Homo sapiens: one gene and its partners. The protein of the gene in region 1 interacts with the protein of each later gene in a biochemical or structural test. Each region holds a gene or a part of one and is shown in the gene's direction. Other genes may lie near its edges.

Region 1 (5,712 bases):
ATTGAAAAGCTGGATGGTGAGGTGGGAGGATTGCTTGAGCCTAGGAGTTTGAGGCTGTAGTGAGCTATGATCACGCCACTGCACTCCAGCCTGGGCAACAGAGTGAGATCCTGTTTCTGAAAAAAAGAAAGCTTGATGAGCTAAAGTGCAAAATACTGGTGTTTACACTTAGCTGGAGTAATGTGAATACTGACTCCAAAATTACTTGGGAAAAAACTATTGCATATATTGTAAGAATCCACATGTACAAACATAAAATATTTTTAAACTGGTACTTTTTGTCATGTTTCAACCTTTTGATGACTGTTTTCTTTTCCTGCCACCAGAAAAACAGCATATGAACATTGAATTCTTTTATTTTTCTGTTACCACAGGAATGAATACTGAAAGCCTTGTCATAATATTAGAATAATGATGTGTGTGGACTATCCTGAGTACTGGATATCTAAATTTATCTTTTAAGAAAAATGGAAGGGAGAGCATCAGGAAGAATAGCTAATAGATACTGGGCTTAATACCTAGGTGATGGGTTGATCTGTGCATCAAACCACCATAGCACATGTTTACCTGTGTAACAAATCTGCACATCCTGCACACGTACCTGGAACTTAAAAGTTGAAGGAAAAAATAAGAAAAATGGTATGTCGTGTCTCTGTACCTTTTTCAATTTCATTTTAAAAATAGACAATACCTGGCCGGGTACGGTGGCTAACACCTATAATCACAGCACTTTGGGAAGCTGAGGCGGGCAGATCACTTGAGGTCAGGAGTTTGAGACCAGCCTGGCCAAGAGGTAAAACCCCCGTCTCTAAAAAAATACAAAAATTAGCCGGGTGTGGTGGCTCCCGCCTGTAATCCCAGCTACTGGGAAAGCTGAGGCAGGAGAATCACTTGAACCTGGGAGGTGGAGGTTACAGTGAGCCAAGATCGCGCCACTGCACTCCAGCCTGGGCAAAAGGGTGAGACTCCGTCTCAAAATAAATACATAAATAAAATAAATAAATAAGTAAATAAATAACAAAACAAAACTGGACAATACCCTTGTGATATAACACCTTAAGTTTTCCGGGGGCGGGGGAGGGGAGCAGGTGGGACAGACTTTTAGGAAAATATTGTAATAAGTTATTACTGGTTATGGGGGGAATACTTATTTTCCTACATGGGGTTAGGAAACCAGCATTTGTTCAGTGCCTAGTATTATTATTATTATTATTATTTTTGAGACAGAGTTTCAGTCTGTCACCCAGGCTGGAGTGTAGTGGCGCGATCTTGGCTCACTGTAACCTCCACCTCCCAGGTTCAAGTAATTCTCCTGCCTCAGCCTCCTGAGTAGCTGGGATTCCAGGTGCCCGCCACCACGCCTGGCTAATTTTTGTAATTTTAGTAGAAATGGGGTTTCACCATGTTGGCCAGGCTGGTCTCCAAGTCCTGACCTCAGGAGGTCCACCAGTCTCGGTCTCCCAAAGTGCTGGGATTACAGGCGTGAGCCATCACGCCTGGTCTGTTCAGTGCTTTTTATGTGTCCTATTATCCTATTAAGGTTTTGTATATATCATCTTATGCTGTAAGCATCTATGCATAAATGTCAGCTGTCTAAGAAAACCCCTCTGAAAAGGTAGATGCTCGTGATTTCACAGCAATAGAGCTTTAAACTTTTATCTTATATGAAAATATCTTTAATTGATTCCATTATTATTCAGTAAGCATTCTCTTTTAAAGCATCTTTGATTTGTTATTTAGAATTAAATTTGATTGGAACTGCATATCTTCAGAATGATTTGAATGTTTTCAAGAAGGTTCTATCCAGATTTTAAAACTGTTTTGTGTTCATTTATTTTCAATAATGTTGCACTACCAACAAATGAAATTAGATGTCAGAAGATAAACCCAGATTAGCCATTTTGATTTTAATGTGTTATTAGTGCATATTCTGCATGCTGATATGTGTTGACGGCATTTCTCTCAGCCGAAATGGTTTGTCAGAGGCAGAGTAACAGACTCTCCATAATAAAGGGTCTGGGGGGATTTGGAGGAAAGACTACTAACCAGGGACCCCAAAGACTTGCCTTTGGGGCTGGCTTGTCCCTTACTTCAATTCACTGTGTTACCTGGAAAAAGTCAGTTATGTCTCTGGGCCTGTTTTCCCATCTGTAAAATGAGAGAGCTGCAGTCACCCTCTGGTTGTCTATCGGGTCCTTCTTGTCCCAGTCTAGAGATCTGTGATGCAGCCATTCGAGGAGAGAGGTCTTCGTTTAAGAGCAGGGGTCCCCAGCCCCCTGCTTCGGACCTGAACTGGTCAGTGGCCTATTAGGAACCGGGCCATAGAGCAGGAGGTGAGCGGCGGGCAAGTGACCTTTACCACCTGAGCTCCACCTCTGTCAGATCAGTGGTGGCATTTGATTCTCACAGGACTGTGAACCCTGTTGTGAACTGCACATGTGTGGGATCTTGGTTGTGCACTCCCTATGAGAATCTACTGCTTGTTGATCTGAGTTGGAACAGTTTCATCCCAATCCCCAACCCCATCCGTGGAAAAATTGTCTTCCATGAACGCTGTCTGGAGACCACTGGTTTAGAGCATTATTTGGAGGTGATTTTGTGTTTCCCTGTCTGGTTTGTCACTGCTTTGTCCAATGCCCTTCTTTTTTTGCCCAATTCCTACTTCCCTTATAGTTTTCATTTGTTATAAAATGGTTGTCATAAAATTAACTTTATGGCCCTGCCAGTCTAGTTAGCAGATAAGGTAATGATTAGATTTGGGTAAAGTGTATTCGACATTTGAAACTACTTCATAGCATTTTCTGCGGGGAGACTTTCTGCTCTTGAGCACACAGATAGTCTGAGAAAGAAACCTCTACCTAGGCTGCAGGGGAGGGGGTCCTGTGCTTTGCTTCCCAGGCCCACCCTTGTGAAATTTTGGCAAGCCTTTCCTGTGTCCCAGCCTTTGTCTCCTCGCCTCGATGAGAAATGCAGCCCTTGGTCTCTGGAATACGACTTTCACTCTCATTTGACGTTAGCCCTGTCACTGTGTTGGACAGATGCCTGTGATTGGCTGCTGCAGTAGCAGGAGTGGTGGCTGGTGAAATGTGTCTACTCAGTGTCATTAGCAGGATCATGAGCTTTTTTTTCTTTTTTCTTGGCAAGCTGCGATGGGGCAGAGAGCAAAGGAAACCAATCCCATTTGGTGTTTTTAGTGCATTTTGCTTTCAAGAGGCTCACAAAACTCAGCCTCATTAACCTTTAAGTGAGTCAGTGAGGAGTTGTTATCCCATTGAAATAATTTTTAATAAAGGGAGAGTGACTCTAGTTCCTCTAATAACCAGGCTCCAGGGTTCCTGGACCCCTGTTAGGAGTGGGTCATTAACTCCAGACATTAGATGAGAGCTGGGAGAGAGGAAGGGCATAGAGGGTGGAAGGTCAAGTCACACAACTGGGCAGGAAGTAAGAAGCTTGATCAGTTTAAAGGTATTAGAGCTCTTTGTGTGTAGAGTTACAGGAGATATTCCCTTTCTATATAATTTATTTCCATGGTGTTTGAATCTTATCTTGTTTTCTGTAATGGACGTATATTTATTTTATAATCAGAGAAAAATCCCAATATATAATTTATTGATATATAAAATGTACAGATTCACATGGACAAATACGAGAAGAGAACATGGAAAGAAATGAATGGTATAGAAAAGGATGGATTAAAGCTTTTCTTTGTTGTTGGTTAATGACTTGACAGTGGTTATAAACAAAGTTTACCAGTTCTACCCTCTCTTTTCCTCTTGTGGAAATCTTGCAAACTTTGTTTGCTAGGTAATAACTGAAGTTCCCGAAGTGTAACTCATTGGCAAGTATGCTTCAGGAATGCTTAGAGTGGGAGGAAGAGTGTCGTTTTTTTTAAGTTGATGAAAAAGAATGCAGAAACCGGGAGCAGTGGCTCATGCCTGTAATCCTAGCACTTTCGGAGGCCAAGGCAGGTGGCTCACTTGAGGTCGGGAGTTTGAGACCAGCCTGGCCAACATGGTGAAACCCCGTCTCTGCTAAAAATACAAAAATTAGCCGGGCATGGTGGCACACGCCTGTAATTTCAGCTACTCAGGAGGCTGAGGCAGGAGAATCGCTTGAACCCAGGAGGTGGAGGTTGCTGTGAGCTGAGACCGCGCCACTGCACTCCAGCCTGGGTGAAAGGGCGAGACTCTGTCTCAAAAAAAAGAATGCAGAATATTGGAATCGAGGTAGAAGGAAAAACGTGTGTTTAAGAGGGTGAGATAGATTGGAGAGACTTTGCGGAATTCCAGAGGGTAAAGGGAAATGCCATTGTTGAAGAAGGAAGGCCTGGCATTACTGGAGGTATGGGATGTGTCCCTGTCGTGTAAGTCAGAGCTCAGTTTCCACACAATATAAAAGTAAATGAGTATCTCCTATATGCAGAGCATAATGTTAGCCCCACAGGTCATTTATTGTTGGTTAGTGGTTTTCACTGTTCTTATCACAATGATGATAATGATGTAGTGAATATGTCATAATTGTTCAAATAAGAAGATATGTCCTTTTCTCTGATACTATGCCTTTCTCATTTTTGGGTAAGATTCTTTTATGATTTGATAGGAATATTTTTATCTAGCCGCTGAATGGTCCATGAAATTGGTAAGTCTGGGAATCTGGGCCTGAGATGCAGGGAGGCCTGCCCTTGGGATTGAGTTGAGTCATGGAGGCCAGGCCAACATGTGGAGTTTGTGGGTCAGCTGATGGGGCCCCTGGGCTTTCCAGGAATATAGAGTCACCCAAGGTCCTAGGAACTGTGAATGAGCTAATTTTGAAAGTGCCCTAGGAGCCAGTGACTATTTTTGAATTATAGCTTGAGAATGACAAGGAAAGCACCAAGATGAAAGATGAGGGTGTAAGGGAACAGAATGGGCAAGTGGTTGAAGTGTGAATTTCAGCAGGTGAACCTCAAGATGTATCTTGACATTTGATTCTTTGCATGCAGGCCTCTTTCTGGCAAAACAACACTCTTTAGCAATTCTTAGTTAGTGATTCTAGGAAATGGTGATGGGTGAAAGCCATAGAACCTAGAATTGTGTAATAGCCAGCTTGGCCCAGACCTCTGCAGTATCATTCCCTCCAGGGTGAGCCTTGAATTGCTGGAGGAAGCTTCAGAATGATTTGCTCATGGAATTGCTGTTATTCACCTTTAGTTTTGGTTGCTATTGTGGGGTGAAGAAGGAGTGTCAAAACAATAACAACAAATTATTTCCTTTTTTTTTTTTTTTTTTTTTTTTTTTGAGACGGAGTCTCACTTGGTCGCCCAGGCTGGAATGCAGTGGCTTAATCTCGGCTCACTGCAACCTCCACCTTCCAGGTTCAAGCAGTTTTCCTGCCTCAGCTACCCAAGTAGTTGGAACTACAGGTGCCCGCCACTGTATCCGGCTAATTTTTGTATTTTTAGTAGAGGCTGGGGTTTCACCACTTTGGCCAAGCAGGTCTCGAACTCCTGACCTCAAGTGATCTGCCCGCCTCAGCCTCTCAAAGTGCTGGGATTACAGGTATGGGTCCTCTCCCTGGCAGCATCCTGCTTGCTCTTTGGTGCTGGCTCTGTTCTTACCTTCTGATCTTCCTTCTGTTTCTCAGGTAGACTTCTGTCCTGGGCAAGAGTCGACCTGCCACATTGAGTATCACAATTTGCTAGGTGGTATTGTTTGTCAGTGGAAGTGAATAAAT
Region 2 (5,275 bases), about 61 Mb from region 1:
TTTAATATATATTAGTTACAAATATGTATATATAATATTTTTTGTTGTTGCCAGCAAAATGAGAAAGAAATTAAATGTTAACATCTATAACAATTGCACTGTAAAGCCGTCATTGTTGAAAAGTACTCCGAAGATTAATAGCGGCAGTGTTTGTTAAAATAATAAAATAATCCAGGCACTCTGCCTGTGACTTCCCCATGAGATGGCTTCCAGAAAAAGATAAATTTTTGTGTGTTCCCTTACGAGTTCAGTCTGCAGCTTCTGGGCATGAAGAGAAGCATAAACAAAACAAACAAGGCTCTAACTTTGTTATAATCCTTACGCTACTAGTAGAAATGTATGGACAATTCATGCATTTCATATTGGAAAATAAAGCTATTAGATTTTTCTTTGAGATGAACCTTTTTTTTGTAATTTATTTTTTATTTTTTATTTTTTTTCAGTAGAGATGGGATTTTGCTCTGTTGGCCAGGCTGGTCTCAAACTCCTGACCTCAAGTGATCCACCCGCCTCAGCCTCCCAAAGTGCCGGGATTACAGGCGTGAGCCACCTAGCTTGGCCAAGGTGAACCTTTTTGATAAATGAGGCTCACTAATATTTCTAGGATTTACTTTTCACTAACTTGAACTAAAGAAAGTATAAGACCTGCATAAAGTTGAGCATACCTCTATAATGTCCCATTTTAAAAAGCAATTTGTTTTTAATGACTTTTATTTGTTAAAAGCAGTTATTTCAAAAAATTATTTTTATTATTTATCATGTCATTTGGACTGAAAATACTATACCATATTTCAGTGTTAGGGCACACCTATCCCTCTTTATCCCAGACGTCAATTCTACCATATAACAAGTATGTAAAAAAGAAAACATAAAAGTGATGACAGACTCCCTAATCAACCTATTTATTGGTTCTAAGCCCAAGCCTGCAGTTCATTTAAATAGTGAAAATAGATTACTTAATTGTCTTAGAAAATATGTCTTCCATGACAAGAATTTTAGGAATGAGAAAATAACTATTTTTGGATGTTTTAACACAAATTCCCAAATCATGTTTTATTGATATTTGAAGAACCTCTTTGTCTACCAGTTCTTAAGTATAGGCTTATTTTGTAAGGCTTAAACATGTATTGGTGTTTGACTGTTAAGACTTGATCTATAACCTTCAGTGTCTTTTTCTTTTAAATGGGGTATGGACTTGGTAATGAGGCCAGAGGAGAATACCTTACAATTTATAGCATCTGCATATAATACAAGAACCTTCATGATTTATAAAATTAAAATGATGATGATGTGGAATGATGGAAGAAGCATGTGTGGGTGGCTATTTATGTAGAGGAAATTAGAAGTTGAAAGCAATGTTAAGAATTAAAATTAAATTACACTTAATTTTTTGCTCAGTTGGATAGTCAGGAAAGTACTTAAATCAGCAATTGATTTACGTAAAATCAAAACTGAAAACTGAATATACAATCTAGGAAATAGGAAAAAAATTTTTAGTGTGTTCATACTGCTAATTTCAAACCAAGCAAAAAACCTGGGGAACTACTTTTCAGAGGAGATGGCTTAAAATGAACCAAAAATATAGCCATTTCTCTACCCTATTCATTTAATGCATTCATTTATTATACTGCTAATACATGATAAGGTGAATAGGTTAAGCATCGTTTGTATATGTGTATGTGATTTTAAACCTGAGTCTTTTGAAAGATTGGTCAAAGCAAAGGATAATGAAAGCATAAAGATTTAGGGGGAAGAGTCCTCTATAAAACTAAGACTTAAACTTTGTTATCAACTTGAATGTGAAGATAGAATAATCTAGAAAGTGAATGAGAATTATAAATAAAAGGACAAATCATATATCTCATGGTTGAGAAATACAATGAGATAAATTGTATATCTCATCTCATGGAGGGTCATAATGAAAGAAGTAAGAGAGATTGCCCTTGGATAGAACCTTTCGGCAGACATTTCATAATGGATTATCATATTTTTGCTAAACTGGTAAGAATGGACTTTTCACCACATTATGAAAAAACACTTTAGAAGTCAGTTGCGATCAAGCAAATATAAGTACCTGGGAAATTAAAATCAAAAGCACAGCAGTCCAACAATAGTCAAATGCATTTACTCACTCTCATACCATATCATAGCGTTAATTTGAGATAATGTCTTTATGGTGTCTCTTTATATATTTACTCGATTTCCCATTTAAGACATTTAACCAAATTTAAAAAGCAATCCTTAGAAACTTTAAAAATATTTCCTATTTTAAACCATTACATAATCATTTACCCTGCAGTTACAATTCTTTTTTTGTGATGGGTGGGGAAGTATCCCATTTCTCTTAGAAAGTCTTCTGTAATAGCCAAATAGGAGTCAATCCAAGTTGCTTAGAGAGGTAGTTCAATCCTGTGTTGAAATAGATGACTTTTGGAGTAATTGTGCTATATTTACTGAGTATCTGTTGAACTGTAGGAGTCCAGTCATTCAAGGCAAGCTACAGAAATGATTTTATTGCTGAGGCACTTAAGTATCTTCACATCTATATGCCAATATTAAATTTCTCATCATCCTTGATCCCCACCCCTTTGCACAGATTGGTATCCCCAGCACATTAGGGAATGCGGTTGTTAGCCTGTTAGGGTCCATTCAGTAGATTTCTCATGCCAGAAATCTAGAAGCCCTTCTTATACATTCAGCTTTCTTCTTCAGTCAGTCACCAAGTTCTATCAAGGCAGCCTCCTCATCTCCAGAATCCATCCCTTCCTCGTTGAATTTCTAGATTTTATTTTTGCATTGTCTCCTGCTTCTAACCCATCGTTCATTTCGCATAATGGTCAGCTTTCTAAAGTGTAAATCGGATCATGTCTCTGCAGTGAATCCCAGTTGTCTTCACAAGCTGATTCTCGCACACCTCACCCCCTTACTCCCTCCGGTGTTCCCCAACCATCCCCTAATCTCAAATCCTCCACACCGACTTTCAGTTTCCTATCCACAGTTTCTGACTTTGAATGCCTTTGCTTATGCCCTCCCTGTATGAGAAGTGCCTTTTCTTTCCTAGCCATCCTGCTAACTTCTAAACCCTTAGGCCTGGTTTGAGCATCACCATTTCTCTCACTTGCCTTTCTGTTTTCTCCCTCCCCTTTCCATAAAGAGTTATGTGCCCCCATTCTGTGTTCTCCTGAATTCCTGTGGGTCCTAGAAAAGAAACATCTTGAGGGCAAGGAGTTCATCTTATTTACTTTTTATTTGCACAGCACCTGGTGTGTTTGCTGAATAAGTAAATACCGAACAAGATATCAAGAGACAGTGCTGCCAATTAACTGTGTGGCTCTGAGCAAGTTAATTAACTTCTCTGAGTCTTATTTTTGTTCTGTAAAAAAAATGAGGTTTGACAAAATGAGCATCTCTCTCTAAAATTATGTGTTTCTTTGATGTAATTGTATTAATTGGAAGACTTCAGATTTTCTTGCCATATCAAGATAGGTCAACTTAAGAAAAATGCATGTGAGTAAGTACCAAGCCAATTCTTGATTATCAGTATGATAATATGAGGAACTGCCCATTTTGTCGATAATAAGTTATAATTTTTGGTCTCAGTGTAGGTTCTTTCTCAAATCCAGATGTTTCTGGTGTTGCATTTTTTCATTATTATTCAGTCTCTCGCATTCATATTTCTCCAAAGAAATTTATGGAAAACTTGAGACAAAAATTGAATGTAAAGTTTAATATTTAAATGCTAGATTGATTCAAGGTCTCACTAATTATAACTATATTTGGAGGGAGAAGAAGGGGAGGTGGTGGTAGTATGAGCTGAATCCTCCTCTGTTCCTTCCTAGAAGGAACACAACGTCCTACATCAAGAAAAAAGACAGAAGCATATCTTGGAGATATGAAAAGAACCACCAGGTAAACTAAAAAGAAAAAGAGTGTTAAAAAGTCAGCCTTTAAAAAGCAGGATTGGAGATGAGGAGGGGTGGAGTAGGGGAAGCATTGCTTGTTTATAGAAGCTCTTCCATCTTCGTATAGTGTGATTTTTATTTTTTTATTATTTTTTCCTTCCTTTTTTTTGACCTCCAGCTTTAGTATAGTACAGTTGACAGAAATTATATATGTTTATGGTACACAAGATGATGTTTTGATATACATATGCATTGTGAAATGATTAAATCAAGCTGATTAACATAAGTAGGGTTTTATTTCTTTAACAGTGATTTATTTGAATATATGTTGAGTCCTTTCTATGTGCCAGACACAGTTCTAAGGACAAGGCACACAGTGCCAAACAAGACAGAAATCCAGAAATTCATGGAGCTTAAATCATGTAGTCTTTTCAGTTTTTAAAATTTTCTTGCTGGGCGTAGTGGCTCATATCTGTAATCCCAGTACTTCAGGAGGCCGAGAAGGGAGGATTGCTTAAACCCAGGAATTTGAGACCAGCATGGACAAAATAGCGAGACCCCAGTCTCTACAAAAAATTTAAAAATTAGCTGGGCATGGTGGCACATGCCTGTGGTCCCAGCTCTTCAGGAGGCCGAGGTAGGAGGTTCACTTGAGCCTGGGAGGTTGAGGCTTCAGTGAGCAGCGATTGTGCCACTGCAGTCCAGTCTAGGCAACAAAGCAAGACTGTCTCAAAAAAGGAAAAAAAAAATAGAAAGAGAAACTTTATTTTTACATTAGCCTTTTTTAAGTTGAAGAATCCCATAGCTAAAAAAGTACACAAATATTAATGCTGCAACTTTAGTGATTTATCTCAAGGTGAACACGTTTAACCTAGTGGGTGGTCAAGAAATAGAACACTGGCAGCACTGCAAAAGCATCCTATCTGCCCTTTCTTAGTTAGGACCCCTTCCCTCCACTGTCATTTAAAAGATTTCACAAACAACTTTTGGATTATATGTATGTCAATTCTGTGACTCATATATATCCACATAGACAATGGAGCGTTGACTGAATGAATTCATTATTCCAAGGTGCTAATAATGAGCTTCACACCAGCGGGAACTCTGCTGTGTCAGTTGGGCTCTAAGCTCAGTTCATTTCAGATATTCCTCACTAAACAAAATACTGTTTTTCCTCAGTTGTTAGTAAAAAATAGAAAACAGATTACATTCTCATTTACTTATTACTTATGAATGTAAAAGTAAATATTTTGCTTAATACCAAGTAGCCAGGGTCACTGACAGAGACATGGGAGAAAGAAGTATTCACATCTGATGTTATCAGACATAGAAGAGAGAGGTATAGTTCACCTATTTCTCCCCACTCAGTTTAT
Region 3 (4,032 bases), on another chromosome or scaffold:
CCAGTTATTATCAAAACCCAAGTCTTTGTCTCACTCACGGTCCACACCCCGCCCAGAGTCGTATCACTTGACTGCATTTGACCATTCAGTTTTCAGACCAACTCCATTGTTACTAGATATCCTGACACTGAAGAAGCTAAAACCAAACAACAATGACAACAACAAACCCAAGTCTGCCTTATGGCAGATTCTTCACGTCGTAACACCTTCCTTGGGACCCTATTTCTCAGTATGGACCTGACTCTCCCAGGGATCCTAGAATGCAAGCATAGTGATTGCAAACCAGACCATTTGAGGGAAACTCCTCCAGTAAGCACCCTGCATGGTCACAATGTAAACCCTGCAGGGGCAGAAAAATGATAAGCTTTGGGTCGGGTCGGAAAGCCATTTCCCCCACAATCAAAGTTCCTTAGTGTTTTCCTTGTGGGGGCGAGCTTATCTTCAGTTACCTTTTCCGGTCCTCTCTTGCAACCCCTCTCCCTCTCATCAGCTGAAAATTAGTGGATGCAGCTAGGGCTCTGAAACACATAAATAATCATAAGATGCCAGATAAACTGTATTGGTTTTAAATTAGAGACGTGCCGACCATGTCTCCCTCTGAACAGCAGCCTATTATTTTTAATTATGGCTTGCAAAGCAAAGTGATTTCTTGCCCTCTTTATAGCATCCCTGACAGTATTCTGTCAGTTTGGATGATATGATGCCTCATCACTGCACACGTCCCTAGCCACAGCCGCAACTGTTACTCAAAAGGTGAATGAAAGTGATCAGCTGCACTCTTTGCAACTTACATTTTGAAGTGGGCTGGGAGGAAATGTACCCCCTTACCTGTGGTCCCATTGTAAATCTGGGTCAAATATGACATTTAGAAAAAGGTTTTCATGGGATCTGGATGAATTAATGTGTTATGTGTTTGTGCTAAGTATGAATGTATGGTGAGGAGTGTGTGTGTGTGTGTGTGTGTGCATTAAATGTTTTAACACAACATTGCCAACCCTTCCCCTAGCAGCACCGTGGGCAAAGCATAAAGGGATGATCTGGCAGCAGCCCCACTTGGGTTTTCTACCTGATGGACCACAATTAAGAGTGGTTGGTTTGTCAGACAGAAGGTTCTACAAACGATTTGGTATCGAATTACATTATACATGGAGAAGTTGAGGGGTTGGATGAATTTGTTCTTGCACGTTCAGAAGGATACCATCTTTTTCTCTGTGTGGAAGAGGCGCCTGCCACGACGTATTGATATGTGTATTTATTTTCCAAGCCTGTCCCTGTATGAGGTGTCAAAAGTTACACCAGCTTTACAAGCGGAGTTTATGAACTCGTTTTTCCAGGATAGTCACATTATACTTTTTACAGTCATGTGCTTTCAGCCCAGTACCCTTTGCTATGCCAAGATCCAGCTGAAACTGAACCAGGTGGGGGAGGCCTGCTAATGCCCAGGCAGTCGAAATGACGCCATCTCATCACTCCTTTTCTTAAAATTTTTTTTTGTCTTTCTTCTTGGATTTCCAGCAACAGGGAGCTGCCACCACCGTGTACTGTGCTGCTGTCCCAGAACTGGAGGGTCTGGGAGGGATGTACTTCAACAACTGCTGCCGCTGCATGCCCTCACCAGAAGCTCAGAGCGAAGAGACGGCCCGGACCCTGTGGGCGCTCAGCGAGAGGCTGATCCAAGAACGGCTTGGCAGCCAGTCCGGCTAAGTGGAGCTCAGAGCGGATGGGCACACACACCCGCCCTGTGTGTGTCCCCTCACGCAAGTGCCAGGGCTGGGCCCCTTCCAAATGTCCCTCCAACACAGATCCGCAAGAGTAAAGGAAATAAGAGCAGTCACAACAGAGTGAAAAATCTTAAGTACCAATGGGAAGCAGGGAATTCCTGGGGTAAAGTATCACTTTTCTGGGGCTGGGCTAGGCATAGGTCTCTTTGCTTTCTGGTGGTGGCCTGTTTGAAAGTAAAAACCTGCTTGGTGTGTAGGTTCCGTATCTCCCTGGAGAAGCACCAGCAATTCTCTTTCTTTTACTGTTATAGAATAGCCTGAGGTCCCCTCGTCCCATCCAGCTACCACCACGGCCACCACTGCAGCCGGGGGCTGGCCTTCTCCTACTTAGGGAAGAAAAAGCAAGTGTTCACTGCTCCTTGCTGCATTGATCCAGGAGATAATTGTTTCATTCATCCTGACCAAGACTGAGCCAGCTTAGCAACTGCTGGGGAGACAAATCTCAGAACCTTGTCCCAGCCAGTGAGGATGACAGTGACACCCAGAGGGAGTAGAATACGCAGAACTACCAGGTGGCAAAGTACTTGTCATAGACTCCTTTGCTAATGCTATGCAAAAAATTCTTTAGAGATTATAACAAATTTTTCAAATCATTCCTTAGATACCTTGAAAGGCAGGAAGGGAAGCGTATATACTTAAGAATACACAGGATATTTTGGGGGGCAGAGAATAAAACGTTAGTTAATCCCTTTGTCTGTCAATCACAGTCTCAGTTCTCTTGCTTTCACATTGTACTTAAACCTCCTGCTGTGCCTCGCATCCTATGCTTAATAAAAGAACATGCTTGAATATCATCACCTGAAGTTTGTATTGTTTCTTTAAATGTTTGTTTCAGTTTGTTTTTGTTTTTCATTTTTTAGAAAAGAAATCTAGAGGAAAAATAAAGCGCTTCTAATAAAGCGCTTCTCGTAGATGCCAGGAAAACACGATTCTTGTTTCTTCTCTGAGTGAGTTTGTGTTTTGTTTTTGTGCTTTGTGGCTGTCCGTGGGCCAAGTTGTCTCACGCGATTAGCATGCCAGCATATTTTCTGTTAAAGAAAGAAAAAAGAAAAATGACTATTGTTTCATTTCACCTTAAGATGTTTTGTTATTACTTACTTACAGTGAGTTATTTTAGTCCTCAATGGTCTGCTCCCCTGCAATTAGCAAGTACTTAGTGATTAGCGGGTATCTCTATGTTTGAGAATGGGAGCTGTGCAGAAGCTCTTATCTGCGCATCCCATCTCATGGACACCATGATTTCCAGCCCGTTCCAGCAAGCACATGAGAAAGTCCACTCTGGCAAGACGGAGAAAATGCTTCTGCTGAAATACCAGGAAGGTGTGGAGGCTGGGTGTCATTGTTCCCCCTCCTGATCATGGCAGCTTCAGGCCAGACAATGTCTTGAACTTCTGTGCCTCTGCATCTGTGGTGCAGAGCAGTCGAACAAACAAACACCATTGCCCTCCAGTGGCCCATAGCCTTGCCACATCCTCCCATCTGGCTATAGTCTTCCTTACGTAATCCTTATTATCACAGGACCTTTGAAACTATGAATCAGATAATGTCACTTTTCAGACATTATTGTCATTTGCAAAAGCAGCCGTCAGAACTCCACTCTCAGAATCTACACCTGGAGGGGATCACCCCTCCCATATGACCTCTGACTTTGGCCATGTGACTGGCCTTGGCCAATTTGGAAAGTGCTTTGCACTGGGGCTTGCCTTTCCTTGTTGATCTTTGGAACCCTGCAACTTCCATCATAGGGAACGGCTCCTGGGCTAGCCTGCTGGATGATGAGAGACACGTAGTCACTCCCAGAACCGGCATCCAGCAGTTAGTTAGTTAGACATGTAAGTGAGGCCATCCCAGACTATCCAGCCCCAGCTGTGCCAATTCAGAGGAGAAGAAACTGCACATTTCACTCACAGCAATGCAAAAGATAGTAAAAGTTTATTTTAAGCCACTAAGTTTCAGGATTACATGTTACTCAGCAAAAGCTAACTGATACAGCTTCTCAGCTCACTAAGGTTAATTTTTTTCTACCCTACTTCTCTTATAATTTGGTCTCCAGCTACCTCTCTAATCTCAACTTCCAGCACTTTATCCACTAGAAGCCACTCTAGTCTTCCTCTGTTCCTCGAACATGCCAAGCACACTCCCAACTCAAGGGGTGCATATTTGCTGTTTCCTCTGCTGAAATGCTTTCCTTCCAGAAACCAGCATGCCTTTCTTCCTCACTGATTTTTAGTCTCTGCTCACGTTATCCCTG
Region 4 (5,275 bases), on another chromosome or scaffold:
ATTGATTTATCGAAGTTAAAGCTCTTTTCCACTTACTAAATACAGTTTAGCGTTTGTTTTGTATTTGAAAGAATATGAAATGAGTTAACTAATGAGTTTCTTATTATTTGCTGTAAAGTGGAAATGAAGAAATAAGAAAATAATACTTTTTTAAGATGATGGTTGAAAATCTTTGAGATACCAAAGTTTTATTGCTTTACCTAGTTAGGGTATGTCAGATTCTAGTAGGGGTTACTGACAATCCTTTGGCAGTAGCTCACAGGCTGTGTAAAGAACCAGAGTTGTGTTACTTTGTTTTCCAAATTGTTGGTTTTTAAAAATAGCTTTATTGCAATTTAATTGACATAAAATTCACCAGTTAGAGTGTATATATTTCGGTTTTTAGTATTTTCACAGTGTTGTGCCTTGATCACCATCACTAATTCCAGAACATTGTCATCACCCCAAGAAGAAACACCATATCCATTAGCAGTCACTCTGAATTTCACTTCAAATTATCCTTTAAAGTAAGAGATATAGCATCGATTCTGTTAGTAAATATATTCCTTTAGTAAGTATGAAAAGGGCTCCTTTTAAATGTCCTGTCCTGGCAGAATAGGAAACTATATCCTTCATACTCCTTTAGATCCTGGGGGAAATGCCATTTGGAAAGGAAGTCAGTGCAAGAATAAATTGTATACAAATTAATGTGGTTATAATCTTAACTATTTGCTCCATGCCTGATATTATCAAAGTGACCTTGTGAGGATGAGATGTTCAGTGAAACAACTTGAAGGAATTTGTTGTTAAATGACTAGTCCCCAACTATCCTAGTGCTAAGAGGTTGTTGAATAGGAGCCTGCTTCTTGTTGGTCTGCTTTGCCAGCGGGTTGAATTTTGACATATTTCAGTCATCTACATGGTTGAGATGCTTTGTTGCACGAGTGGAAATACAAAATAATGTCTGACATTAGGATTCCAGTGCTCTAGAGGTCTCTGGTCAAGTCAATGGTATGGGTAGTAGCTTTTCTGATTCATGTGGTCCAAGGAAGTCATTATAACCACATAGCTTTATATATGAATCATTTGCCTATGTCAGTGAACTGTGATGCTGATTGTCTTAATCATGAGCTCTTTACCTGAACATTTAGAAGCCTTGCATTCTTACTCTTAATGCAGGTTAAGTTGAACTTTGATTTCAGAAGTGAGTTGACTGAAAGGTAACAGGAGTATTGAAATGAGTTATCCTGTCATTCAGGTCAATAGGTGGAGCTAGAGCAATCCAGGAATCAGACCTAGGTTCATTTCTCAGTTCTGCCATCTGGACTTTGTCATCAAATTCTGGAGCTTTAGGCAAGTGCCTTAATGTTTTTGGCTTTAAAAGTATAAACTGAGGCTGTCAGAACTTTTTTTTATAGAAGGCTTGTTCCTCAGATAGGTGGTTCTTGAGAAAACATACTAGGACAAAAAGAGCCCTTCTTGGGTGATAATCAGAAGCCTAAGTTAAGAACAGTAGTCAAAGTTAGGATTTTGTAATTTTGTAATTTTCAGAAGCCAAAAAAATTGTTGAGTTGAATTTTTTCTTTAATATCCAGACTTAGAAAACAAATGGAAGGCTTCACCATAAGCTAGAGATTCTTGGAAAGGTAGGCTTTTATTTATTCCACAGCATCATGCCTTCTAATGAGACCGTATGCTCCCAGAGACTTTGTGGAAGACATAAAATGAGTTCATTATCCTCAGGAAGCTTATAATCAAGGATTAGACTGAAGGCATCGCTAAACAGTTAATTTATGCTCTTTTAAAAGGTATATGAAAGGGTTCCCGCCAAACAAAAGCCCACTTCACATCTCTGTGCAGGCCAAATTTCACTGAAATCCAGTTTTTAAAATTGTGTGTGTGTGTGTGTGTGTGTGTATGTGTGTATACGTATGTGCATGGAGAGAGACAGAGAGGAGACCCCTTTTTGGAAAACTTAGTAGCTTCCATTCTTTTTCTTGGAGGTGGGTTATATCACAAATACAAGAGATACCTGTGTTTCCTGTTACCCTTTATTATATTTCAGATTTAGTTAAAATCTGCCATTCTTTAGAAAGTCAAGGAACTCAAACCTTACAATGATTGCTAGCGTGGGTTTTAAGGTCAGCCCTGAGTTCTAATCGTGCTCCAATCTAACTGTGGTATAGGCTAGTTCAGGTTATATAACATATTTGGGCCTGTTTTATTATCTGTCAAATGAGAATAATAATAGCACGTAACCTCATAGGGCTGTGAGGTTTAAATTAGGTACTGCATGTAAAGTGCCTGGCACTGTTGTGGTGGCTGGAATGCTAGATACAAGTATTCAGGTAGTTTTTGCTATTGTTATCACTTATATTTAACTTTGAACAAACATAAAATGCCAAGTAAACGTCAAACCAGTTTAATGCACAGTGTCCATTCTAATTCTCCAGAATATGCCATTTGTTTCACTCTGCATCTCTGGGGGGTTTATTTAAAATTCGATCATCTCATGTAATCTGAATTGACTGAGATGATTTATATTAACATTTGGACCAGTAATCCTCTCTATCTTAAAATTTGGAAATGTTCCAGAAGCAAATATTGAAGGGAACATATTTGCCACTTTCACGATTTTTTGCCTTTTCCCACAGGAGAAAATTGCCTAAGCTTTCCTAGGTTTGTTATAGACATCTAAAGGAATGAGAATTTAGGAGCTACGAATAGCTTTATCATGTGACACATTTGAAGAAAATGGAATGCTGTCACATCTTTTAAATTTAGTGTTATTGGGATCTTCGATTCTGTGAAGATTGCAGATTTGTCAGAGACCTGGTAACCACAACAATTCATTGAGGCCTGGAGGCCTCTTAAAAAATGAGGGAGATTATTTATTAGTACCACTTAGAAATATTATCTTTTCTGTATTTTCTGTGGTTTTCTAAGTCTTCTGTTTAGCGTTTCTATGATTATAATGGTGGATTAAATTTCTTGTTCCTTCTCAAGAGCATCTACTATGAGATGACACTGGTTTTTACTTCGGCAGTATTTACTGAGCATTGCACTATACTAATCCAGGTATTCGGTGATGTAGGAACCAAAGGAAATAGAAGTCAGTTTCTACCCTCAGTGAGCTGAGTATAATTTGATAGAAGATAAGGATTAACGTAAGCACATTTATGTCCTAACACAAGGAAGCAAATATTGTTAGTCATTTCATTAGGAATTTCTTTTGTCATTGGGGCATTTGGGGCCTTCCAAACCTTACATCTCTTGCCATGCCTTTGTACTCACTCGATAAACCTGAGAAAGCAAGATATCTTCTTTTCTGATTCCTGGTTTAAGTTGAGAGTGTGGTGCACATTAGTCAAAATCCAAATCATAAGAAAAGGCAAACCTTATGAATTCATTTTGGAATACAACAGGGTATCAAAATAAGTATATGAGAAATATGAAAAGCTGACAGTAGAAAAGATGCTACTCAGGTACTAACCAGAGTTCTCAATCTCCTCTGTATTGAAGCTCTTATGATGTAAGGCTGGATCTGTACTAGAAACACTTTTTAAAGTCTCTCTCCAGTATTGAGAAGTATAGTCCTCCAGTACTGCCTCTTGGTGCTGAGAGACTCAAGCCTGCCACCCACCATATTTCTGGGGAAACTAGAAACGAAAAATAGCCACACACAAGCACTTGCTTTGCTTGGCAGGAAACATCAAAACCATAAGATGTTATTTCCTAAAAGTCATTAATTGGGTAGAAAAATCACCATTTTCTGACTTGTTCCAGGAAGGATGGCTTTCTGATTTTCAGATGCCATTGGGTCAACCAAAGGTAAGATAAAGAAAAGCTACTGCTGTGTGGATTTTTCTGTGACTTGAGAAAGCGTCACTTTTCAGTTAAACAAAAACCAAAGCATCTAGCTTTGGCTGTTACTATTGAGAATTTAAAAGTCTTAATGTTTTAATTTGTTTACATTTTATATTTTGACTAAGTAGTAATGAATTCACTTTGACTCAAAATTCCAAAGATTTAAAAAGATAAAGAATCTCCTTTTCTACTCTGTGTAGCCACCTAGTTCTTCTGCCTGGAAACTGTTAAAATTCCTGTGAATACTTCCAAAGATAGTTTATATATGTTTAAGTATATAATCCTTTGTTCAAAATCCTTGGTCCAGATGTATTTTAGAATGAAGGCTTTTTTTGCAGTTGTGGAAAGATAATGTAGCACATCTACCGTGTTATCCAAAATCCCTAGTAAGAGGTTGTAGCCTCATGATTAAACACATTAACATTTCTGTAAAAAATACAGACATAGGCCAGGCGCGGTGGCTCACGCCTGTAATCTGAGCACTTTGGGAGGCCGAGGCGGGCGGATCACCTGAGGTCAGGAGTTTGAGACCAGCTTGGCCAACATAGTGATACCCCGTCTATACTAAAAATACAAAAATTAGCTGGGCGTGGTAGCGTACGCCTGTAATCCCAGCTACTTGGGAGGTTGAGGCAGGAGAATCTCTTGAATCTAGGAGGCGGAGGTTGCAGTGAGCTGAGATCGTGCCACTACACTCCAGCCTGGGCGGCAGAGGTGTAGACTCTGTCTCAAAAAACAACAACAACAACAACACCCAGAAATAATCAAAGACATTAATATTTTTATAAAAGCATAACAAATACAAGTAGGGTGAATAAAGATTATAAAATCTTATGCTACGTCTCGTCAGGTTTTACCACCAAATACGTTTGTACTAAACTTATTTTAAAAACGTATTTTTCACAGCTTTATGGATTTTGGCTTTGCCAATGAAGGATAGGTGTCATACATATATACAGTACTGTATAGCCTCTGCTCTGCTCCCTCCCTTTTTATTTAATGTAAGTTGTTGCATGCAATATGTATCACCTTTTGCTTTTTTGTTTTTTGCTTGTTGGTTTGTTTTTTGAGACGGAGTCTCACTCTTGTTGCCCAGGCTGGAGTGCAGTGGCACAATCTCAGCTCACTGCCACCTCTGCCTCCGAGGTTCAGGTGATTCTCCTGCCTCAGCCTCCTGAGTAGCTGGGATTACAGGTGATCCACCTGCCTTGGCCTCCAAAGTGCTGGGATTACGGGTGTGAGCCACCGCACGTGGCCTGCTTTTTGTTTTAATATAGCTGAGAGATTATTTTATATCAGTCATATCAGTATGTAAATGGCATGCTTTTTTAACATCTTTGTGGTATTCCATTTGTCTTACTCTGTTTGGGCTGCTATATCAAAATACCATAACTTGAGTGGTTTAAACAACAGAAATTTATTTCTCACA

What was found.
Region 2: the proteins of APBB2 (region 1) and NFKB1 form a complex in vitro, tested with the Homo sapiens proteins (one study listed by BioGRID).
Region 3: the proteins of APBB2 (region 1) and WWOX form a complex in vitro, tested with the Homo sapiens proteins (one study listed by BioGRID).
Region 4: the proteins of APBB2 (region 1) and MAPK8 form a complex in vitro, tested with the Homo sapiens proteins (one study listed by BioGRID).

Annotation. Positions count from the first base shown.
Region 1 is NC_000004.12:41,206,763-41,212,474, reverse strand, and holds part of APBB2 (amyloid beta precursor protein binding family B member 2), read left to right. Parts: intron 1-5,712. UniProt on the Homo sapiens protein: Plays a role in the maintenance of lens transparency, and may also play a role in muscle cell strength. Involved in hippocampal neurite branching and neuromuscular junction formation, as a result plays a role in spatial memory functioning.
Region 2 is NC_000004.12:102,507,041-102,512,315, forward strand, and holds part of NFKB1 (nuclear factor NF-kappa-B p105 subunit), read left to right. Parts: intron 1-3,839; exon of another isoform or gene 3,840-3,892; coding exon of another isoform or gene 3,893-3,909; intron 3,910-5,275.
Region 3 is NC_000016.10:79,210,093-79,214,124, forward strand, and holds the end of WWOX (WW domain-containing oxidoreductase), read left to right. Parts: exon of another isoform or gene 1-1,515; coding exon 1,516-1,704; 3' UTR 1,705-2,575; downstream 2,576-4,032. UniProt on the Homo sapiens protein: Putative oxidoreductase. Acts as a tumor suppressor and plays a role in apoptosis. Required for normal bone development. May function synergistically with p53/TP53 to control genotoxic stress-induced cell death.
Region 4 is NC_000010.11:48,308,859-48,314,133, forward strand, and holds part of MAPK8 (mitogen-activated protein kinase 8), read left to right. Parts: intron 1-5,275. UniProt on the Homo sapiens protein: Serine/threonine-protein kinase involved in various processes such as cell proliferation, differentiation, migration, transformation and programmed cell death.